Homo sapiens: one gene and its partners. The main gene of each other region encodes a partner of the protein of the gene in region 7 in a complex. Each region holds a gene or a part of one and is shown on either strand. Other genes may lie near its edges. The genes, in order: LSM4, PRPF31, SNRNP40, SNRPD3, SNRPF, PRPF3 and PPIH.

What was found.
Region 1: PPIH (region 7) and LSM4 share a complex: the UniProt entries of both Homo sapiens proteins name them as parts of the U4/U6-U5 tri-snRNP complex.
Region 2: PPIH (region 7) and PRPF31 share a complex: the UniProt entries of both Homo sapiens proteins name them as parts of the U4/U6-U5 tri-snRNP complex.
Region 3: PPIH (region 7) and SNRNP40 share a complex: the UniProt entries of both Homo sapiens proteins name them as parts of the U4/U6-U5 tri-snRNP complex.
Region 4: PPIH (region 7) and SNRPD3 share a complex: the UniProt entries of both Homo sapiens proteins name them as parts of the U4/U6-U5 tri-snRNP complex.
Region 5: PPIH (region 7) and SNRPF share a complex: the UniProt entries of both Homo sapiens proteins name them as parts of the U4/U6-U5 tri-snRNP complex.
Region 6: PPIH (region 7) and PRPF3 share a complex: the UniProt entries of both Homo sapiens proteins name them as parts of the U4/U6-U5 tri-snRNP complex.

The regions. Positions count from the first base shown.
Region 1 is NC_000019.10:18,313,077-18,316,576, reverse strand, and holds part of LSM4 (U6 snRNA-associated Sm-like protein LSm4), read left to right. Parts: exon of another isoform or gene 1-511; coding exon 512-553; exon of another isoform or gene 554-908; intron 909-3,500. UniProt on the Homo sapiens protein: Plays a role in pre-mRNA splicing as component of the U4/U6-U5 tri-snRNP complex that is involved in spliceosome assembly, and as component of the precatalytic spliceosome (spliceosome B complex).
Region 2 is NC_000019.10:54,122,254-54,125,753, reverse strand, and holds part of PRPF31 (U4/U6 small nuclear ribonucleoprotein Prp31), read right to left. Parts: exon of another isoform or gene 3,348-3,500; intron 3,263-3,347; exon of another isoform or gene 3,258-3,262; coding exon 3,160-3,257; exon of another isoform or gene 3,112-3,159; intron 2,301-3,111; coding exon 2,194-2,300; intron 2,006-2,193; coding exon 1,836-2,005; intron 1,256-1,835; coding exon 1,098-1,255; intron 1-1,097. UniProt on the Homo sapiens protein: Involved in pre-mRNA splicing as component of the spliceosome. Required for the assembly of the U4/U5/U6 tri-snRNP complex, one of the building blocks of the spliceosome.
Region 3 is NC_000001.11:31,283,289-31,286,788, forward strand, and holds part of SNRNP40 (U5 small nuclear ribonucleoprotein 40 kDa protein), read right to left. Parts: intron 1-3,500. UniProt on the Homo sapiens protein: Required for pre-mRNA splicing as component of the activated spliceosome. Component of the U5 small nuclear ribonucleoprotein (snRNP) complex and the U4/U6-U5 tri-snRNP complex, building blocks of the spliceosome.
Region 4 is NC_000022.11:24,562,499-24,565,998, reverse strand, and holds part of SNRPD3 (small nuclear ribonucleoprotein Sm D3), read right to left. Parts: intron 1-3,500. UniProt on the Homo sapiens protein: Plays a role in pre-mRNA splicing as a core component of the spliceosomal U1, U2, U4 and U5 small nuclear ribonucleoproteins (snRNPs), the building blocks of the spliceosome.
Region 5 is NC_000012.12:95,861,952-95,864,295, reverse strand, and holds part of SNRPF (small nuclear ribonucleoprotein F), read right to left. Parts: intron 1-2,344. UniProt on the Homo sapiens protein: Plays a role in pre-mRNA splicing as a core component of the spliceosomal U1, U2, U4 and U5 small nuclear ribonucleoproteins (snRNPs), the building blocks of the spliceosome.
Region 6 is NC_000001.11:150,338,533-150,342,032, forward strand, and holds part of PRPF3 (U4/U6 small nuclear ribonucleoprotein Prp3), read left to right. Parts: intron 1-1,865; coding exon 1,866-1,945; intron 1,946-3,497; coding exon of another isoform or gene 3,498-3,500. UniProt on the Homo sapiens protein: Plays a role in pre-mRNA splicing as component of the U4/U6-U5 tri-snRNP complex that is involved in spliceosome assembly, and as component of the precatalytic spliceosome (spliceosome B complex).
Region 7 is NC_000001.11:42,671,923-42,675,422, reverse strand, and holds part of PPIH (peptidyl-prolyl cis-trans isomerase H), read right to left. Parts: intron 136-3,500; exon of another isoform or gene 1-135. UniProt on the Homo sapiens protein: PPIase that catalyzes the cis-trans isomerization of proline imidic peptide bonds in oligopeptides and may therefore assist protein folding. Participates in pre-mRNA splicing.

The DNA of each region.
Region 1 (3,500 bases), on a different chromosome or scaffold from region 7:
CTGGAGTTTGCGACTAGCCTGGCCAACATGGTGAAACCCCGCCTTTATTAAAAATACAAAAATTTGCTGGGTGTGGTGACGCATGCCTGTTGTCCCCAGCTGCTTGGGAGGCTGAGGCAAGCTGCTTGTGAGGCTTGAACACGGGAGGTGGAGGTTGCAGTGAGCCATGATCATGCCACTGCACTCCAGCCTGGGTGACAGAGCGAGACTCCGTCTCAAAAAAAAAAAAAAAAAAAAAATTGACCAGAGTGTTCAGCACCAAGAGCAGGTGGTGGCCACCTACGGGAGTAGGGAGGGTGTGTGAGGCTTTTCTTCCTAATCTGAGAGGCAGGTGTGTGTTCCAGGGCTGGGCAGAGTGAGGAAATGGCATTTCCAGTGGGGGGTGATTGACACGCACTCCTGTGCCCCCTCAACCGCACCGCACCATCTATGAGTCATGGGTGGGACTCAAGACCAGAGCTCCCAGGCGCTGGTCAAACAGACAAATCATGTGGCTTTATTTGCCTTTCAGCTTCCCTTGTCACTGCTGAAGACGGCTCAGAATCACCCCATGGTGAGTACTCAGTGGTCTGGGAAAGCCTGTTTGAGAGGGGGCCAGCCTCAGCACAGGGGCGGTGGCTGAGCAGACGGCTTCCTGGCCTGCCTGTCCACCAGCATGGCAGTTTGCTCTCTTCTCCCTCCCCAGGAGTGTCCACACTCCTGTCATTTCTGCTGCTTGTAAGAGTAATACATACATACTTACTAAAAATTTAATGGGCCAGTTGCAGTGGCTCGCGCCTGTAATCCCAGCACTTTGGGAGGCCAAGACAGGAGGATCGCTTGAGCTCAGGAGTTCGAGATCAGCCTGGGCAAGAAGAAAAACTTAAAATTAGCCAGATGAGGTGGTGTGTGCCTATAGTCACAGCTACTCAGGAGACTGAGGCAAGAGGATCGACTGATCCCAGGAGTTTGAGGCTGCAGTGAGCTATGATCATACCACTGCGCTCCAGTCTGAGCGACAGAGTGAAACCTTGTCTCTAGAAAAAGAAAATTAATGAGGTGGAAGGATCACTTGAGCCCAGGAGTTCAAATCCAACCTGGGCAATATAGCAAGACCCTGTCACTTAAAAAAATAAAAAGAACTTCAGGTTGGGCATGGTGGCTCAGGCCTATAATTCCAGCACTTTGGGAGGCTGAGGCTAGAGGATGGCTTCAGCCCAGGAGTTCAGAGACCAGTCTAGGCAACATGGAGAAACCACGTCTCTCCATAAAATATAAAAATTAGCTGGGTGTAGTGGCGTGCACCTGTAGTTCCAGTTAGTTGGGAGCCTAAGGCAGGAGGATCACCTGAGCCTGAGGCGTTTGAGGTTGCAGGTCGCTGGGTGACAGTGAAACCCTGTCTCCAAAAAATGATAATATTGGCCGGGCGTGGTGGCTCTATGCCTGTAATCCCAGCACTTTGGGAGGCCGAGGCGGGCAGATCAGGAGATCGAGACCATCCTGGCTAACACGGTGAAACCCCGTCTCTACTAAAAATACAAAAAAATTAGCCGGGCGTGATGGCGGGCACCTGCAGTCCCAGCTACTTGGAAGGCAGAGGCAGGAGAATGGCGTGAACCCGGGAGGCGGAGCTTGCAGTGAGCTGAGATCGCGCCACTGCACTCCAGCCTGGGTGACAGAGCGAGACTCCATCTCAAAAAAAAAAGGATAATATTACATACTAACACTTCAGTTAAAGTGCACAATTTAGTGGCATTTGGTGCAGTCACAGGTTGTGTAACCACCACCTTTATCTAGGCCGGAACATTTCCGTCTCCACAAAAGGAAAGCCCATTTCCATCAGCAGTCACTTCCCAGCCCCAGTCCCTGATGAGCATGAGGCAGCTGCCGTCTCTGTGGGGTTGCCTATTCCGGATATTTCCCATGCATGCGAACGGAGACCATGAGGCCTTTCGAGCCTGGTGGTTGTCACTCAGCAACGTGTTTTTGAGGTTCATCCACCCTGTGGCCTGTGTCAGTGCCTCATTCCTTATAGCCAGACGATACTCCGTGGAGCGGATACTTACCACTTTTTTTTTTTTGAGAGGGAGTCTAGCTCTGTCGCCCAGCCTGGAGTGATCTGGGCTCACTGCAAGCTCCGCCTCCTGGTTTCACGCCATTTTCCTGCCTCAGCCTCCTGAGGAGCTGGGACTACAGGTACACGCCACCACGCCTGGCTAATTTTTTTTGTATTTTTTTTTTAGTAGAGACGGGGTTTCACTGTGTTAGCCAGGATGGTCTCGATCTCATGACCTCGTGATCCGCCCGCCTCGGCCTCCCAAAGTGCTGGGATTACAGGCTCACGCCCGGCCTACATTTTGTTTATGTGTTTGTCTGCTGATAGGCATCTGGGCTCTTTCCCCTTTTTGGCTATTGCGAACAGTGTCACTGTGAACATTCACGCACACATTTTTGTATGGTTGCCTGTGTTCATTTCTCTTGGGCAGATGCCTAAGTTGAGTCATTTAAAAATCTCAGCCCTGGTGGGAGGCCAAGGCGGGTGGATCACCTGAGGTCAGGAGTTCAAGACCAGCCTGGCCAACATGGTGAAATCCCCGTCTCTACTAAAAAATTAGCTGGGCGTGATGGCAGGCGCCTGTAATCCCAGCTACTTGGGAGGTTGAGGCAGGAGAATCACTTGAACCCGGGAGGCAGAAGTTGCAGTGAGCTGAGATCACACCATTGCACTCCAGTCTGAGCAACAACAGAGAAACTTCCATCTCAAAAGAAAATCTCAGGCTTGGACTGAGTGTGGTGGCTAATGCCTATAATCCCAGCACCCCGGGAGGCCAAGACAGGAGGATCACTTGAGCCCAGGAGTTTGGGACCAGTCTGGGCAACAGTGAGACCCCACTTCTACAAAAGGAAAAGAAATTAACCACATGTGGTAGTGTGCGCTTATAGTCTCAGCTACTAGGGAAACTGAGGTGGGAGGATGGCTTGAGCCCAGGAGGTTGAGGCTGTAGTGAGCCATGATCACGATACTGCACTCCAGCCTGGGCAACAGAGCAAGACCCTGTCTCATAAAAGACACCAAAAAATATCAGTCTTTTCCTAACAGCAGCATATCCTCAGAATGATCTGCTACTTATCTTTGTTCTCAAAACATACCAAAATAGATGAGTAATTATTGCAGTAAAAAACAGCATTTGTGGAACACTGAAGCCCAAATATCTGGTGTTGTGGGGGTGCCTGCCAGGACCAGCCCAGCTGTGCCCACCTGGCCCCCAGCCACCCTGGATCAGTGGCCACCATCACCATTGTCTCACTTATTCCTTTAAACATTTCTGTGTTTCTTAGTTTTTTGTTTTTTTAAGACCAAGTGGCACTCTGTTGCTCAGGCTGGAGTGCAGTGGTGCGATCTCAGCTCACTGCAACCTCCCCCTATCTCAACTCACTGCAACCTCCGCCTCCTGGGTTCAAACAGTTCTCCTGCCTCAGGCTCCCGAGTAGCTGGGACTACAGGCATGCACCACCATGCC
Region 2 (3,500 bases), on a different chromosome or scaffold from region 7:
TGTGTTCCAGTAGCAGTGCCTGACCTAAAGGGTCGCAGAAAAGACCACAAAAAAAACCCCACACAGGGCTGGGGGGTGGGGCCAGGAAGTGCCTGCCCAGCCTTGGCCATCAGTGCTATTGTTCTCCCCATCCCTGGGGGAGGCCAGGCAGGGCACAGGGCCGTGAGCCTGAGGTAACTCGCCACAGTTGGACAGAGCAGGGTCTGGACCCAGGCCTGTCTGTCCCAGAACCTGTCTTGCTTGTTTTTTTTTTTTTTTGAGACAGAGTCTCACTCTGTCACCCAGGCTGGAGGGCAGTGGTATGATCTTAGCTCACTGCAACCTCCACCTCCTGGGTTCAAGCGATTCTCCTGCCTCAGCCTCCCAAGTAGCTGGGATTATAAGTGTGTGCCACTATACCCAGCTAGTTTTTTGTATTTTTGGTAGAGATGGGGTTTCACCATGTTGGCCAGGCTGGTCTCGAACACCTGACCTCAGGTGATCTGCCCGCCTCGGCCTCCCAAAGTGCTGGGATGACAGGCACGAGCCACTGCGCCCCGCCAGGCTAGCGGGCCTGTGTGTGTGCTGTCAGGCGTCGATGCTGGGATGGTGATGTGTCCCGACTGCAGGGAGAGGACCCGGGAAGCTCCGAGGTTGGTGACCTCTCCTGCCCCTCCTGTGTGTCTCTCCCCATGGCTGATGTGCAGCCCTCAGTGGATTCTGTGAGTCTTTCTAGTGAATGGTCAAACCTGAGGGTGGTCTTCGGAGCAGTTGCACGCTAACCCGACGCTGCTTGTCGTGAGCTAGGCCTGAACTGTAAGTGCTTCATGTGCACTGAGCCCTCGTCCCAACTCATGAAGCAGGCGCTGTGCTCCCATTTGATAGGGGAGGAGACTGAGGCACAGGGCGCTCATGCCTCTTGCCCACAGTCACCTGACTGGTGGGTGCTGGAGCTGGTCTGCTGCAGAGCCCTGGCTCTCACGTCCCATGCCACCCTGTTCCCAGCTCCTGAGTGCTACCGTCAGCTGGGCCAGATGGTGGGTGGCTGCTCAGGCTGTCTGGGCACAGCGGAAGGCTCCAGGGGGGCCGGGGGAGGGGCCATGACGCAGTGGGCTCACCGGTGGCAGGGACTGCACGATGTCACTGTGGTAGATGTAGCCGGTGTGGGGCAGCACTGAGGTAGACGAGAAGCCCGACAGCGTCTTGCGCTGGGCCCCGAGCAGCATGATGTTGCAGGCGGGCATCTTGGAGAGGTTGGTCAGGCCGCCGGCCACACCTGCGGTGGGAGGGAGGGAGGAAGGGGGGGCGGTCAGAAGAAAGCAGAGAGGTGGGGGTGAGTAAATCTGCCTGGGGGCTCGACGTGTGCTGGGCACCTTTACATGAAGTTCTGGTTGGATTCCTCGATGGCCCTGCCAGGCGGGCGACCTGGCCCATTCCGCAAGGGGCAGATGCAAAGGAGGCTCAGAGAGGGAGGGCAGCTGGCCTGGGGGTGCAGGGAGGAGGCCCCCAACAGGAAGCTGACCACCACGTTTGTGCTAAGCCACACTAACGCCGTTCCAGGGATGGCTGTGTTTTGGAACCATTTTCACCAAACCAGGAGCTCCCTGACAACAGGGCCTGGGTGTGGTCATCTCTGGGTTTCCGGCACAGGGGAGGGAGAAGGAGCTGTGGGTGAGTGTTTTTCCCACAGATGAGGCTTTGCTGTGTGCCAGGCTGGCTGACCTCTGTGATGTCCAGGGAGACGGGGTGCTGAGGTCCAGGTGCCAAAGCCCCCATTCTACAGAAAAGGATGTAGCTTTCCCAAGGTCACAGTGTCAGCAGACCCCCGCTCCATGGGACCCAGCCCGGGGACTCACCCATGATCTTGGCGGCCGTGGATGCCCCGATAATGATGGACAGGTTGGGTGCGATGAAGGACATCCGGGACTCCACATACTCGTAGATGCGGTGCTTGGAGGCGTTCAGCTCCAGCGCCATGTCGCAGGCCTCCTCCAGCCGCTCCAGCTCCTCCTCCGACAGCTGCTGCCTGCAGGGGCGGGTGGGCCCAGCCTCCTGGGTCTCCCGCCTGCCTGGTGTGCCCAGCCCCAGCCCTCTCGGTTCTGTGTGTGTGTGTGCATGTGTGTATGTGTGTGTGCGTGTGTACACCTGCGTGTGTAGCTCCAGCCTAATCCCCAATCCCATTAGGGCCCGGCGCCTCCCTCGAAGCGGACATACCCCTGGGTGGTGGAGGCGGTGACGCTGACGACCATGATGGTGGCATTGGTGAGGATCTGCTGCAGGTTCTCATTGTTCTTGCACTTGTCCAGGCTGTTGCCCAGCTCCTGGGGGCGAGCAGAGAAGATAGGGGAGGCTCGGGAACTCAGGAAGGCTCGAGAACCTCTCTTGCTCAGCACCTCCTCAGGTCTCTTCTTAGGGACACTGGGACAGTCAGGGTCTCTGCACTGGGGGCCTCTCCTGCCTCCACCGCCTGAAGCATCCACACCATTCCTGCCTCCACCACGTCAAGCATCCACACCATCTGCCCTGCTTTCGCTGACCTGGAAACGGAGCCCGGGCAGAGTGGCGTCTGGAAAGACTGTGGCCTCACAAGCCTCTGGCCTGCGTCAAGTCGGAGTGCAAATCCGCGGCCTCGCTTCCCTGCAGGGGCTTCCCCACCGCCATCCTAATCCTTTCCTGGACATGCGTGGGGACCTCCTCCTCTCCCCGCCCTCACGCACACCTGCCCCTCTTTTCCGAAACCCTTCCTTGGCTTTCTCCTAAGACCCAAAGGCTGGACGTGATCCGACCTCTTCCCCGTCCCCTCCTTCCCCGCCTCACTTCCTCCCCACTTGTTCCCTCTCCAGCTCTCTGCACTTAGACGTCTCTCTCCCCCAAATCTCCGTGTGCCTGCCCTGTGTCAACCTTCGGATGTCAACTCCAATGCCACCGGCTCCAACCACAGCGGGAGCAGCGTGGGTCAGGCCAGCGGGGAAGCCCTCTCGGGAGACTGGGGTTGGAGGGGAGCCCTGAGAAAGTCCTGTCCAGGCTCCGTCCCTCCCACGCTGGGCAGAGCAGACCACTGAGCCCTCGTCCACTCCTCTCCATCGTCTCCAGACCCTCAGGCCTCTGGGAGGGGGTCCGAGAGTGAGCCCCGCCTGCCCCTTCACGCCAGCAGAAGCACCCCACCTTCTCTGCGCTCACCTTGACCGTGCGGATGTAATCCAGTGCATTGGGGACCAAGGACTCCAGTTCAGGGAATCTCTTTGAGTACTTATCCCGGATGAACTTATGGATGATGTCTAGGGTAAACGGGACAGGAGGTTGTCGGGTGAGATGGAAGGTAGACTCTGCTGGTTGGCCCTAACACCCATGTCCCCTTCTTCCTTTAGTAACTGAAGCCCTGGCTTGTGGCCTGGCACACGGGCACCAGCATACAGCCTTTCTCAGCCGTCCTTACCGCTAGGTGTGACCAGGGGAATTAGTTCTGGTCTGTAAAACGTGAGCTGCAGTGACATGTTCTTAAAGAAAAGAAGCGCCTTGCT
Region 3 (3,500 bases), about 11 Mb from region 7:
TTTACAAAATTAGTTCAAAAATTCACTAAACAGGCCGGGCATGGTGGCTTACACCTGTAATCCCAGCATTTTGGGAGGCCGAGGTGGATGGATCACTTGAGGTCAGGAGTTCAAGACCAGCGTGGCTAACATGGTAAAACCTTGTTTCTACTAAAAATACAAAAATTAGCTGGTCATGGTGGTGTGCCCCTGTAACCCCAGCTACTCAGGAAGCTGAGGTGCAAGAATCACTTGAACCCGGGGAGTGGAGGTTGCAGTGAGCCAAGATCGCACTACTGCACTCCAGCCTGGGCTACAGAGCGAGACTTCGTCTCAAAAACCAACCAACCAACCACTCTCACCTTACCCCAACCCACAGAAAGTCACTAAACAAACAACTACAATAAGCAGCTCTGGGGACCTAATTTCCAGAGTCACCACGCTATAATATTTAAATGCCTAGTTTTCAACAAAATATAAGGCATGCAAAGAAGCAAGTAACTATGGTCCATATAGAAGGAAAAAGTAGTCTTCTCAACAAATTGTGCTAAGACAACTGGCTAACCACATGCCAAAGAATGAAGGTAAGCCCCTGCCTAACATGATACACAAAAATTAATTCAACATGGATCAAGGACCTAAATGTAAGAGCTAAAACTATAAAATTCTTAGAGGGCCAGGTATGGTGGCTCATGCCTGTAACCCCAGCACTTTCGGAGGCCGAGGCCAGGAGGATGGCTTTAGCCCAGAGTTAGCGACCAGCCTGAGCAACATGGTGATTCCTCATCTCTACAAAATAAAAACAAAAAGTTGGGTGTGGTGGTATATGCCTATAGTCCCAGCTACTTGGGAGGCTGAGATGGGAGGATCGCTTGGGCCAGAGAGGTTGAGGCTGCAGTGAGCCGTGATTGCGGATCTGTACTCCAGCCTGGGTGAGAGTGGCGGCATCTCGGCTCACTGCAACCTCTGCTTCCGTGTTCCAGCAATTCTCCTGCTTTAGCCTCCTGGATAGCTGGGATTACAGGCATGCGCCACCACGCCCAGCTAATTTTTCTATTTTTAGAAGAGACGGGGGTTTCACCATGTTGGCCAGGCTGGTCTCGAACTCCTGACCTCAGGTGATCCACCCACCTTGGCCTCCCAAAGTGGTGGGATTACAGGCGTGAGCCACTGCACCCGGCCAAGACCCCATCTCTTAAACAAACAAACCCTTATAGCTCTACTTTTTTAAAGCGTGGATAACACAGAGAGGGCTCAGAGATGTTTCAATAAATGAATGACACACTTGAGAAGATGAACCACAAGTAAATGATTTAAAAGTATGGGTCGTTTCATTCAGAAGAAAGAGACTTTGGGATGACTGTTCCAAGTTTTAAAGGGCTGGCATCAAAAAGAAAGGAATCAGCCATGGAACTTTAGGGAAGGTCATAGGCTTAACTTCAATCCTGTAGTCAACAAGGAGAGTCTGAGTAGGATCTGTGCCAAGATGCCTCTTCCTCCCAATTCTCATGGTTTAGGATGAAAAGTAGTTTCTTCTTTGTTCATGTAAATACGAACTAAAAATTAGTTCATTACTCAGATAAATGGTCTAAAAAGAACGCTTCACTCCTCTCCTACATGCCCAACATCTCCTACTCCCCCAACTCCTGTGGTTACAGAATCAAGTCCAAACTTCTTAACCTGGAATTCAAGGCCTTAATAATTTAGATCCTATATATTTTATAAACTGTACTATAATCTTTGTCTCAATAGATACTTCACTCAGGTCAAATCTATCTTTGTCTTTCTCCTAAAAGTCATGGTAGTCAAAGTTTGTTTAAAATAATTTAGAATTTTAGTTCCAGATAACTACCACTTTTAATAATTATTTTACTTTGAAGCAATCATAAATTTATAGAAAACTTGGAAGTAAAAAGAACACTTTTTTTGGTCTAAATCATTTGAGAGTAAGTTGCTTACCCAATGCCTTATCACCTTTTTTTTTTTTTTGAGATGGGAGTCTCACTCTGTCTGTTGCTCATTCTGGAGTGCAGTGGCGTGATCTCCGCTCACTGCAACCTCCACCTCCCGGGTTCAAGCAATTCTTCCTCAGCCTCCTGAGTAGCTGGTATTACAGGCATCTGCCACCATGCCCGGCTTTTTTGTATTTTTAGTAGAGACAGGGTTTCTTCAAGTTGGCCAGGCTGGTTTCAAACTCCCGACCTCAAGTGATCCACCTGCCTAGGCCTCCCAAAGTGCTAGGATTACAGGCATAAGCCACTGCACCTGGCCCCTTATCACTCCTAAATAGTGTCTGTCCTACAAAGATGTTCTCCTACATCATCTCAACATAACCATCAAAATCAAGAAATACAGATACACTATCACCATTTTATCCTCAAATCCCACTCAAGTTTTACCAGTTATCCCAAATGTCTTATTGCACAAGGATTCAGTCTGGAATCATATGTTAAATTTAGACTCCAGTCTGCAAGACTCTCTCAAACTTTCCTTGAGTTTTATGAACTCAACACTTCTGAAAGTTACAGGTCATCATCCCCAATTTAGGTTTGTCTTATGTTTCCTCTTGATTAGATTTAAGTTATACATCTTTGGTAGGAATATCACAGAAATGATGCTGCATCTTTGTTGTATCCTAGCAAATGGTTCATGATTTTGTCTTGTCCCATTACTAATTAGGTCGATTTGATAATTTAGTTAGGATGTTCTTTTGACAAAATAAGCCTTGACAAGTACAAGGCTTATCTTGTACTTTCACTGCCCCTGGGCTGAAATAGGAGCCCTGGTTCCTTTTAATGGAAAACAGTACCTGTGCAGTAAGGGGTGCTATTGCTATTGGGGTCTTGTTGCTCCTAAACCTTTTCAGTGGACAGTCAGGCAATATATGTACATTTAGGTACACACACACACACACTCACACATTTATGTCTATTTTTTTCTATATGTTTCTATATTGAATATTGTGAGTTCACACTTATACCTCACACAAGATTCATTTTAGTCTTCTCTTTTGTACTGGTAACTCTGTTCTTGGACAGAGAAATCAGCCTCCCATTAAATTCAATATATTCACTTATTTGATTATGCTTCCTGCATGCAACCAGTTTCCCATATTCTCTTCCACCCTTCCCTACTTGAATTGTGATTCCCATTCTTGGTTGAAGCCATGTGTGACTCTTCCTTAACCAACTTGGGTCATTCCTCTGTGTGAACACCCTCATCACTCTGCTACGGCTCTTTTCCAGTCTGCACTTCTCCAAGCATGCAGTCATCATCTTGCTCAGTCTCAGACTCCCTACACCAAATCATTTCTACCCTGTGTGGATGCCCTCAGTTCAGGCTTTGACATCCACATTCTCCCCGTACTGCTTCACGTACAGGCGACCCTTTCACCCCATTAGGGCACTGTTGGGCTGCTGCCCCTCCCTCACCCTCAAATTCCCCACACTGGTTACCTACCCTGTGTTGTATGGATGCCTTCCTCACTCTCTGACTACTCCCTACAATGTACTGCCCTGCCC
Region 4 (3,500 bases), on a different chromosome or scaffold from region 7:
GGATACAACTCAGGCTCACCTGAATCTGACTGACAATTAAAATGTGTTTTGGGGCTGGGCGCGGTGGCTCATGCCTGTAATCCCAGCACTTTGGGAGGCCGAGGTGGGTGGATCACCTGAGACCAGTCTGGCAAACACGGTGAAACCCTGGCTCTACTAAAAATACAAAAATTAGCCGGGTGTGGTGGCAGGTGCCTGTAGTCCCACCTACTCGGGAGGCTGAGGCAGGAGAATCACTTGAACCCGGGAGGTAGAGGTTGCAGTGAGCCAAAATCACGCCACTGTATTCCAGCCTGGGCAACAGAGCAAGACGCCGTCTCAAAAAACAAAAAACAAACCAAACAAACAAAAAACGTGTTTTGGGGACTGTGCCACACTCATGACTCTGTAGAAGACACAAAATAGGCCTAAAGACCTATAGGTGAGATCCAGCTCTGCCATTTGTCAGAAGTGTAACCCTAGGTATATCTCCAGGCTTCCCTGAGCCTCCGTTCCCTCAACTACAAAGCTGAGTTTTGAAAATACAAGACAACAAAGCCAACAGTTACTGAGCACTTATTAGACATCAAGTGCTGGCCCAGGTGATTTCCCCACGGCAGCTCATGTTACCCCACAAAATCCTACAAGGTAAAGAGATGAAGTGACATAGCCATTCAGAGGCAGATCTGTCCCCAGAAACCCATGCCCTTTCCCTCTATTCTCCTGCTTGAGGTCACACCACGCTTACATGGCCTGGCTGGAGTTTGAACCCAGTTCTTTCTAACTCACACTCTTAACCACTGCACATTTCCTGAAATTGTTAAAAAGCAAATCAGGCCAGGTACAGTGGTTCATGTCTGTAATCCCAGCACTTTGGGAGGCCAAGGTGGGAGGACTGCTTGAGGTCAGGAGTTTGAGACCAGCCTGGGAAATGTAACAAGATCCTATCTCTACAAAAATTTTTAACAATTAGCCAGGTGTGGTGGTGCATGCCTGTGGTCCCAGCTACTTGGGAGGCTGAGGTGGGAGGATGGCTGGAGCCCAGGAGTTCAAGGCTGCAGTGAGCTATGATTATGACACTGCATTCCAGCCTGGGCAACAGAGTAAGACCCTGTCAAAAAAAAAAAAAAAAAAATGAACAAGGCAAAGTATGTCTAAATGCTGTCTCTATTGCCTAATACATAATAGAGACTCAGTACATGCTAAATCTGATTGACAGCTAAAATGTGTTTTGGGAGCTGTGCCACTGCTAAGCCACACTCCCTCCAGCACAGGGGCACATCTCACTCCTTTCCTGACAGAAGCTGTTGCATAAGTCCGACAAGACTTAATCTAGGCATTTCCATAAATGAACTATGTCCTGGCTGAAGCAGGAGAGTCCAGTGTCCTCTGACTCCTATTTTAACCCTAACAACCAGGCTCACTACTGCTCTCGCTTTCCCTGTAGCACTGGCTAAGAACAGCTTGCTGTGGACAAAACCCCACAGTCTCACTGCACACATGCCTGCTAGAGCTTGCTAATAAGCCTGACCTGTGTTTGTATCACAAGCCCAAGGCAGCAACTTTTGAGTGAACCAGATCCTAATCAACTCCAGGCAGGAACACCCAGTTTAATCAACTTTCCTCAACAGCCACAATGAAACACATATGGTATAAGCCAGGTACCCAACTGAAATGACATCCTGAGGGGGAGAGAGAGAATCTTTGTAGCACAAAGTGGTGGGACTTTCTTAGATACCTGGGGCCAAGATGGAGAAAGCTAGCTCCAGGACTGTGAAGGTGTGTTGGGGTGTCTCAGGCCTGTCAATACACCAGAAATGCATTCTTTAGGACAATTTCACACATACACAAAGGCAGAGGTGCTTGGATGCCACTGCTATAATACGAATACCAACTAAGGCCATCTACCTATCTTTGTTCTTAGGAAATACAAAAGTATTATGGGGTAGAGGAGCATGATGAATGCAATCCACACACAAACAGTACAGGAAAAAAAAAGTATACGATAAGTTTAAAAAACTGGTTTTCCTTCAACCTAGAGGGCTAGGTGTCTAAAGAAATTCAATTACATTGAATTCAGAGATTTCAAAAACTTTCCTAGCAATAGTTATGGGCAATTTTCTGACCCAATCATGTGAGAGCTTCTTTTGGGTTCTCATTTTTATACAGTGACACAAGACCATATTCCATACAGAGACCAGTTTTCCAAAGATGGCTATTATATGCCAAAGCCAACAAAACAGATTTCAAACAGTCCCATCAGTGATTGGGTGGTCATGTTGAAGCCCCAAAAGCACAATGTCTGCTTGTGCAGAGCTCTACACCACATTCTCCCACCAAAACTTCTAAGAATTAAGTCATTTTGAATGTAGTGAAATGGGTTTGACCATTACTCTCTGTATTTGCTTGTATCATTTATAATTTGGGTCCATTTTTATAAAACTGGGGACATATTTTGGAGTATTGTTATTTTTCTCACTTATGCCAACAGCATTTTGACCAACATGCCATATCCTGCAGCTGATGCCCTATCCTGCAGCACTGGCCACCAGTGCTTGGCTTGCAGCTGTCGGAATGAGAAGGAGAACAAAAGCTCCCTGCCTTCCCAGCTTAACCTCAGATGCACACCCTCTGACCCGATAAGCACCATTTCAGGGACCTCATCCTGAGTTTCACATACACATATTTCCTCTTCTTCCTTTAAAAAAAAAAATATATATATATATACACACACACACACATATATATACATACATATATACATACATACACACATACACACACACACACACACACACACACACACACACACATATATGAGACAGGGTCTCACTGTGTTGCCCAGGGTGGTCCCAAACTCTTGGGATCAAGTGATCCCCCTGGCCCAGCCTCCCAAAGTGCTGGGATTACAGGCATGAGCCAATGTGCCTGGCCATATTTTGCATTTTCAAATGTCAAAAACAGTGCTAAGATAACAGGATACTTTAAAACTACTTGAGGGACCATAAAAGGGTATTTTGTATGGGGATGTTGTCGAGGATATCATCTAATAGTGTCTCCTGTATCTGAGTGCCAGGGAAATCCACACAATTGCTATTTTAACTTAAGAACACTATGCATTTTGGAACTGATGATCTTCCCTGCTTAATCTTACACTGGAATATACCTTTATTCAATGTACAGAGAGATTCAGGTTTACATTTCTGGATACTGACTGCTTGGCTTCATTTTACATTCTACCCCAGCTTACCTGCACCATGATCTATGCATCTACTTTTATCCTGCCATAGAATTTTTTTAATTTTAGAGATAGGGTCTTGCTCTGTCACCCAGGCTGGAGTGCAGTGGTGCGACCAGAGCTTAATGCAGCCTGAACTGCTGGGTGGGCTCAAGTGATCCTTTTTGCCTCAGCCTATGGAGTAGCTGGGACTACAGGCATAAGCCATCACATCCAGATAATATATTTTTTATTTTTGGAGATGGAGTCTTGCTCTGTCGCCCAGGCTGGAGTGCAGTGGCGC
Region 5 (2,344 bases), on a different chromosome or scaffold from region 7:
GAGGTTTCCTTCACAATTAGGCACGTGGAAAAGGAAAAGAAAAATAGGGCTTAACAATAAGGATTAAAATAGGATGTTTCATAAGGCATGAAAAACATGGTAATGAACACTACTACTGGATGTTACTCCCTTTCTTATAGACAACAAAAAGTAATCTCCATTATCCAGATGATATAGTTTTGTCTGAAATATACGAGGTTGTTGAGACAGTTTGTATGTAACAGCTATAAGAAATAATGTATTAAGAGCAACTAATTTTTTGTAAAAAGTAATTACAACATTTAACATTTCTAAATTACACAATAATGTTCCAAATACTTTCTATCATGTTCTTCACCATCACTTAACAGGCTCTCTATGGCCGCCATTTTAACCTAACTTTCTGTCATTCGTCCCTTAACTCAATCTGCTCTGGCCTTTTTGCTGTGCCTTGAACACACCAAGCATGCTTCTGCCACAGGGCCTTTGTACTTGCTGTTCCCTCAAACTGGGATGCTTTTCCCCAGATACTCAACTGAGTTGTACACTAATTCTGGTATCTTCCAGAATTCGCCTCCTCAGAGAGGCTACTCTATATAATATTGCACATACTGTCTTCCCCCTTTTCTTCATGGATGGCATCTATCATGCCTATTATCACATTATATTACCACCTCCCACCACTAAACCATAAACTGTTGAGGGCAGGGACTTTGTTTTGTTCAATGCTATATTCACAGTGCCAGGCACATAATGGAATTCAATAAATATTTGCTGAGTGAACAAATTCAAACACTGGTATCAATATGGTTGACTACTCAAAGTGGTTGGTTACTCAGACATTTTGCAACTCTAGCAGGGTCACTAGCAAGCTATATTAATTCTAAAACAAATATTAAGTGGTAATTCTTTTATTATTGAGATGTTAATTTCCATAGCATAAAATTCACCCTTTTAAAGTGTACAATTCAGTGGTTTTCAGTATATTCAAAAACCTGTGCAACTATCACCACTACTTCCAGAATATTTTCATCACAATTCATATACTTCCCAGATTTTTCTATGGTCTTGGTAAATGACTCCTGTTTAAGGAATTTTCCACACTCAAACTATGCTTTGGGGGCCTTAATGTCATGTGCTCAGGTGGTAATTGCCTAAGTTAAGGAAAATCATAGCTCTCTGCCTACTTAAGTACTCCTTTTAGTACTCTGCTTACAAGTATGGAATCCTTGGATTCATGATTGGATTGACCACCTGTCTTGATAGCCTTTAAAAACCTGCCTGGAAACTACTACCATTAAAAAAACAACAAAAAATCCCAAACTAATTTTTTAAATGTGCAAAAGACATGAACAGGCATTTCTCCAAAGATAAACAAATGGCCAATAAACACATGAAAAGGTGCTCAACATCATTAGCCAAATGCAAATCAAAACCACAATAAGATACCACTTCACACCCATTAGAATAACTATTTTATAAACACCCATAGAAAATAACAAGTGTTGGTGAGGATGTGGAGAAACTGGAACCGTTGTGCATTGCTGGTGGGTATGTAAAACCACGTAGCTGCTGTGGAAAATAGTGTGACAGTTACTCAAAAGAAAAAAAAAAATTTCTCTGTCATCCAGGCTAGAGTGCAGTGATCACAGCTCACTGCAGCTTCAACCTCCCCAGGCTCAGGTAATCCTCCCAACTCAGCTTCCTGAGTAGCTGGGAATATAGCTGCCCACACCATCATGCCTAGCTAGTTTTTGTATTTTTTTTGTAGAGATGCAGTTTCACTATGTTGCCCAGGCTGGTCTCAAACTCCTGGGCTCAAGCAATCTGCTGCCTCAGCCTCCCAAAGTGCTGGGATTACAGGCATGAGCCACCACGCTTGGCCTCCTTAAAAAATTAAACATAGAATTACCAGTAATCCAGTAATTCCACTTCTGGGTATATACCCCAAAGAGCTGAAAGCAGTGACTGGAACAGACATTCGTATACCCATGTTCACAGCAGCATTATTTACTACAGTCCAAAGAGGGAAGCAACCCAGTGTCCACCAAGAGGCAAATGGATTAGAATGTGGTATATCCATATAATGGAATATTATTCAGTCATAAAAAGGAAATTCTGACACATGCTACAACATGGATGAACCTTGAATAATACACTACGTTAAGTCAAACAAGCCAGACACAAAAGGATAATACACAATTCCACTTACATGAGGTATTATGCACGGTCAAATTCATAGACATGTAGACTAGTGGTTACCAGGGGTTAGTTAGGTGGAGGAAGGAATGGAAAATTATTGTTTAATGTTTAATTGTAAAATTATTGTTTAATGGAAAATTATTGTTTAATGGGCAAAAAATTT
Region 6 (3,500 bases), about 110 Mb from region 7:
CTCTGTCACCCAGGCTGGAGTGCAGTGGCACGATCTCAGCTCACTGCAACCTCCACCTCCCGGGTTCAAGAGATTCTCCTTGAATTCTCCTTGAATCTCAGCCCCTCAAGTAGCTGGGACTACAGGTGTGTGCCACCATGCCCATCTGCTTTTTGTATTTTTGATAGAGACAGGGTTTTGCCATGTTGGCCAGGCTGGTCTCGAACTCCTGACCTCAGGTGATCCGCCCACCTTAGCCTCCCAAAGTGCTGGGATTACAGGCGTGAGCCACTGCACCTGGCCAAGCTCCTGCATTTGTAAGTGATGTATCATATATATAGGCTGTTTTTAGCTTTTGGGGTTAATGTAGGATAACCAGGGACACAATCTACAAAAGCAAAGTCTAGAATTCTTTTTGCTCTGTTACACATTGTTGCCTGTTTTTAGCATTATTTTCCTTAATTACATTCTTTTGCTACGTATTATAGGTGTTTACATTTCCTAAAGATCTCATTGTGATAGAGCAAGGATTATTAGTTGGTAGGTGAGATAATAGTAAATATAGCATATAAGGCTGGGCTCGGTGGCTGACACCTGTTATTCCAGCACTTTGGGAGGCTGAGGGCTGAAGGATTGCTTGAGCCCAGGAGTTAAAGACCAGCTTGGGCAATATGGTGAGACCTCGTTTCTACAAAGATTAAAAAAAAAAAAAAAGTAGCTGGGCATGGTGGCTTGTGCCTGTAGTCCTGGCTACCCAGGAGGCTGATGTGAGAGAATCACTTGAGCCCAGGAGGGTCTGTGCTGCAGTCAGCTATGATCATGACCACTGCACTCTATCCTGGACAACAGGGTGAAACTCTGTCTCAAAAAAAAAAAGGATATAAGACACATTTGAAGAGCTTTAAATATATCTGCTCCATCCATTTTTTTTTTTTTTTTCCTGAGACGGAGTTTCGCTCTTGTTGCCCAGGCTGGAGTGCAGTGGAGCAATCTTGGTTCACCACAGCCTCCGCCTCCTGGGTTCAAGTGATTCTCCTGCCTCAGCCTCCCAAGTAGCTGAGATTATAGGCATGCACCACCACGCCTGGCTAATTTTTGGTGTTTTTAGTAGAGACGAGGTTTCTCCATGTTGGTCAGGCTGGTCCCAAATTCCCGACCTCAGGTGATCCACCCGCCTCAGCCTCCCAAAGGGCTGGGATTACAGGCATGAGCCACCACGCCTGGCGTTTTTTTTTTTTTTTTTTTTTTTTAAGACAGAGTCTCACTCTGTTGCACAATCTCGGCTCGCTGCAACCTCTGTCTCCTGGGTTGAAGCAGTTCTTCTAGCTCAGCCTCATAAGTATCCGGGACTACAGGCAAATACCACCACACCTGGCCAGTTTTTATATTTTTAGTAGACAAGAGTTTCACTATTTGGCCAAACTGGTCTCAAACTCCTGACCTCAGGTGATCCACCTGCCTTCATCTCCCAAAGTGCTGGGATTATAGGCATAAGCCACATCACCTGGCCCTGCTCCATCATTCTGATACATGGCTTTAGTAGATTTTGTCTTAGCCTTTCGTTGCCCCTTCTTTGTCAGCCACTGTTCCAGGGACTTATTGTCACTAATGAGAGAACATAGCGTCTGTCAGCTGTGGCATGGTAGAAAAAAGGTTGAGAATGATTGCTGTGGAGAGTGTGTTCAACCATAGAGGGACTCAGTTTTCTCATCATGAAAATTATGTGTAATTTAACTATATATTTTAGGTACCTAAATGCTATTTTAGGTATATCAAGCACAAGAACCCATTATAGAGAGTGGGTTTTTTCATTGTATTTCTGAGACTCCTCTCTTAGAATCATCTCTACCCGCATATCGTGTTTTCTTTTCTTCCTACAATTTTAGTACAGAGGAAAATCCCAAGAGAGAAGATTATTTTGGAATCACAAATCTTGTTGAACATCCAGCCCAGCTCAATCCTCCAGGTAATGTATAGATTCCTGAATCAAGTCTCTAGAGCAGCATTACCCATTGGAAATTTATACAGTGAGGAACATGTTCTGTATCTATGCTGTTCAATACAATAGCCACTACCCATGTGTAATTCTTTTTTTTAATTCAGTTTTTTTCCTGACAATAGTTTGTTGTTTGACCAGTGAACATACATTTTAAGTGCATATTCCTGTGCTTAGAATTTCATGAGACAGCCAAGCATGGTGGCTCATGCCTCTAATCCAAACACTTTCGGAGGCCAAGGCAGGAGGATTGCTTGAGGCCAAGAATTCAAGACCAGTCTGGGCAACACAGTGAGACCCATCTCAAGGAAAAAAAATTTGGCTGGGTATGGTGGCTTATGCCTGTAATCACTGCACTTTGGGAGGCTGAGGTGGGCAGATTGCTTGAGCTCAGGAGTTCGAGATCTAGGCAACATGGCAAAACCCCATCTCTACAAAAAATAAAAAATCAGCCGGGCATGGTGGTGTGCATCTGTAGTCCCAGCCTCTTGGGAGGCTGAGGTGTGGAGGATGGCTTGAGCCTGGGAGGTGGAAGTTGCAGTGAGCTGAGATGGTGCTGCTGCACTCCAGCCTGGATGATACTGCCAGACCTTGTCTCAAAAAAAAAAAAAAAAAAAAAAGAAGAAAGAAAGAAAGAAAAAAACCCAAAATTTCATGAAGCTTTACATTTACAGTTCCCTGGTTGTTCCTAGGAAAGAGCCCTCAGCTTGCTCCTTTTATAGAACCACATGTTGTTGTGGCATCCACAGCTAAATGCAAATGCAAGAGCCAAACTCTTGGGTTGGTGTGTTATTAGATGCGATATGCTCCACTACCCACTGTGAGGGATGCTAATTCCAAAGGGCTTTTTGTTAGTTTCCCAAAGTTGAAACTGGGAAACAAAGTTGCTTCTATTTTTTTTTTTTTTTTTTTTTTGAGGAGGAGTTTCGCTCTTGTGGTCCAGGCTGCAGTGCAACGGCATGATCTCAGCTCACCACAACCTCTGCCTCCTGGGTTCAAGCAATTCTCCTGCCTCAGCCTCCTGAGTAGCTGGGATTACAGGCATGTGCCACCACGCCCAGCTAATTTTGTATTTTTAGTAGAGACAGGGTTTCACCATGTTTGGTCAGGCTGGTCTTGAACTCCTGACCTCAGGTGATCTGCCAGCCTTGGCCTCCCAAAGTGCTGGGATTATAGGTGTGAGCCACCGCGCCCGGCCTTTTTTTTTTTTTTGAGTTGGAGTTTCGCTTTTGTCACCCAGGCTGGAGTGCAATGGCACTATCTCCGTTCACTGCAACTTTCACCCCCCTGGGTTGAAGCTATTCTCCGGCCTTAGCCTCCGGAGTAGCTTGGATTATAGGTGCCTGCCACCACACCTGGCTAGTTTTTGAACTTTTAGTAGAGACAGGGTTTTGCCATGTTGGTCATGCTTGTCTTGAACTCCTGACCTCAAGTGATCTGCCCACCTAGGCTTCCCAAAGTGCTGGGTTTACCGGCGTGAGCCACCGCACCTGGCCCTAATTTTGTTTTCTACATTTGCCAGGTA
Region 7 (3,500 bases):
CCACAGTGGAGAGATGAACCAAGTGCTGTGGGAGCACCCACTGTCTGGGCTTAGACCTGGAAGAGGAGGTGGAGGGATCAGCAATGGATTCACACCTGATGTTAGCCACAGCTGTGGGCAGGCTCCTGGGAAGTGCTGGGAGGATTTAGGATTAGTTAACACTACATATAAACAGTATGTATTTCTATTACAAGATACATGTTCAAGGTAGAAAATTCAAGCTTAAATAAGGCAACTGAAAAGTCTCTTTGCTATCTCTACTCTGCAGAAGTATTATCCACAGTCTGCTATATATCACTGCAGAGATTCCTGAAAGTCATTCAAAATAAACAGTAACATGCTTACATAAATTACTACATCTTGACTGTCACTTAACTTACCTTAGAAATCTTGCCAACACATCCAGATCTACCTCTTTATTTTGTTAAGGCTGTATAGTATTCCACTGAAGAGAATGGAACCTCTACGTGTGTAAGACTTGGCTGCAATGCAAGCAGCTTTGCCTTTGTACTGGACTGGAATGGACTGGAGCCAGACATTCTCTCCACTCCTGGCCTTTTCAGCTGGCAGAGCTTCTGAGTTTCAGGACAGGGAACATACAGTGTCACATGCCCAGCAGGCACATAAATATTTGCTGCCAAATCTCCAGTGTTCCCCAGACCCATATTTTCATGTAAAACCTCTTTTCTCTTGCCTGGACTACTACTGCAGTAGACTCCTCACTGGCCTCCAGCCCATCCTCCACAATGCTGCTAGAATCATCTTCTGAACATGAAAATTCATCTACAGTATTCTGCTGAAAATCCTTAAGTGGTTCATATTGGCCTGATTCTTTTTTGGAGGGTCAGTGCCCCTTTTGAGAATCTCAGGAGCACAGTGGACTCCTTCCCCAAAAGGGAAAAATTACTTCATGCCTGAAAGTCAGCCTCTGCCCTCAGAATAACATATGAACTGCTAAACTTGGCACTGGCTTTCACTACTGGCCCTGGCCTCTCTCCAACCTTCTCACCATTTGCTTTTCATATCTTCCTGCTTCAGTCATATTGAATTATTTGCAGCTTCCTCTACACTTCCTGCTGTTTCCTGCCTTTGTGACTTTGCATAGGCTGTTCCCTCTGCCTGGAATGCCCTGCCCAGTTTTAGCCACCTGACAAGTTATATTCTTTCTTGTACTAAACTGAAGCATCATCTCTTCTGTAGTCTACTCAACCACTCTGGGAAGATCCGGGCATTTATGCTTTCCTCACCTTGTTCTAAAACCTCCAATACAGGGCTTTATTGTACTGTAATTGTCAGTTCTCCCAAGAGACTGAGTTCCTTGAAGGATGGAACTGACTTTTCAAATCTGTAGCCTCATATGCAGCATGGGAACTATCTTAATTCATCAGCGCTTAGTTGTGGAATGAATAGAGGACCAGCCCAACTGCCACCAACACATATTTCCTAATCTTCCCCTACGGGAATGTCTCGCATCTATAGGTAATTCTAGAATGAAACACAGTGTTTCCTAAACCTTAGTCATTCAAATAGCATCTTCACAACTGTTACAATATCTATCATCCACAGGTACAATTTATTTTTTAAGCTAATCACTATTTGAACTTCAATATTGCCTCACTATAAGCTGTAATAACTGTAAAATGATGTATTGTGCTAATTCCGTATTTTTTCCTAAGATCCAAATATTAAAATAAAAGACAGTCATCCCACCACTAACTAAAGTAGTGTTTCCCACACTTCTCTATTAAGAAGCATGTGAGATACTTGTTACAAACATAACATCCTGGTCCCACCCCAAAGCCACTCAATCAAATACTCCAGGGAAGGGATCTAGGAATTCGTAGGTTTAACGAGTGCCCCAAAATGATTATTACCTGTTGGAGAATCTAGGCAACAATGAATTAAGGAAAGCTCTCTACCATTTGGTACTGGTACCAGGTTTGAGGATCACAGGGAAGAGGGTAAGCATATCAGACTAGCAGAGCTGCCAGAACTCGGGCTTTCAAAAGAGAGGTGCCACCCTCTCCCATGTCCATGTAAGTAGCAAACAACCCATTCAGACTACAGCAGGAGAATCCTGAGTGTAGAGGTTCATTTATGCTATACATAACCAAATTCATCATAAAAAGTTTTCCAAGGGCTGGGCACGGTGGTTCATGCCTGTAATTCCAGCACTTTGGGAGGCTGAGGTGGGAAGATCGCTTGAAGCCAGGAGTTTGAGACCGGCCTGGACAACATGGTGAAACCCCATCTCTAAAAAGTTAGCTGGGTGTGGTGCTGCACGCCTATAATCCCACCTACTAAGGAGGCTGAGGTGGGAGGAACACTTGAGCCAGGGAGGTCGAGGCTGCAGTGAGCTGTGACTGCGCCACTGCACTCCAGCCTGGGTGACAGAGTAAGACCCTGTCTAAAAAAAAAAACTCTCCCAGAACTCACTGAGATAAAACCAAGGTTTCTATAACTAAAGTTGTACAGACCAGGCATGGTGGCTCACGCCTGTAATCCCAGTACTTTGGGAAGTCAAGGCGGGCAGATCACATGAGATCAGGAGTTTGAGACGAGCCTGGCTAACTTGGTGAAACCCTGTCTCTACTAAAAATACAAAAAAATTAGCCAGACGTGGTGGAGCATGCCTGTGATCCCTGCTATTCGGGAGGCTGAGGCATGAGAATCGCTTGAACCTGGGAGGCGGAGGTTGCAGTGAGCTGAGATCGTGCCACTGCACTCCAGCCTGGGCAACGGAGTGAGATTCTGTCTTAAAAAAAAAAAAAATTGTACACAAAACTTCATTTTCACTAAAACCAAAGTCAGAACCTAGGAAGGCAAAACACAAAGGTTCTGGAAAGAAGTGCTCCATAGGGAGGTAGAATTGATCAAGTGACCCGTCTTCTATCTCCTTCTTAGCTGTTTCACTGCATATGTCCAGTGCCTGGGCACAAGGCCTCAAATGCAGGATTAGGTGATACCTTGATGTGAATGCAATGGATTCCTGCTGGACTAGTGCCACCAAGAGAGTACTTCCTCTTGGTCTTTTTTTTTTTGGAATATGGCAAGTTCTCAATTAAAAGATAGACTCTTATCCCCTATTGACTTGCCTCACAGTCTGCATCAGCATCACCTGAGAGCTGATTAGAAATGCAAAATCTCAGTCCCCATCCAAACCCACTGAGTCAGAACCACTATTTTATAACAAATCTCCTGGAGATCCGTATGAACGTTAAAGTATAAGAAATACTGCCCGGCCAGGCATGGTGGCTTATGCCTGTAATCCCAGCACTTTGGGAGTCCGAGGCGGATGGATCATGAGGTCAGGAGTTTGAGACCAGCCTGGCCAAGATGGTGAAACCCTGTCTCTACTAAAAAATACAAAAATTAGCTGGGTGCGGTGGTGGGCACCTGTAATCCCAGCTACTCGGGAGGCTGAGGCAGGAGAATTGCTTGAACCTGGGAGGCAGAGTCTGCAGTGAGCCGAGATCGCGCCACTGCACTCTAGCCTGGGC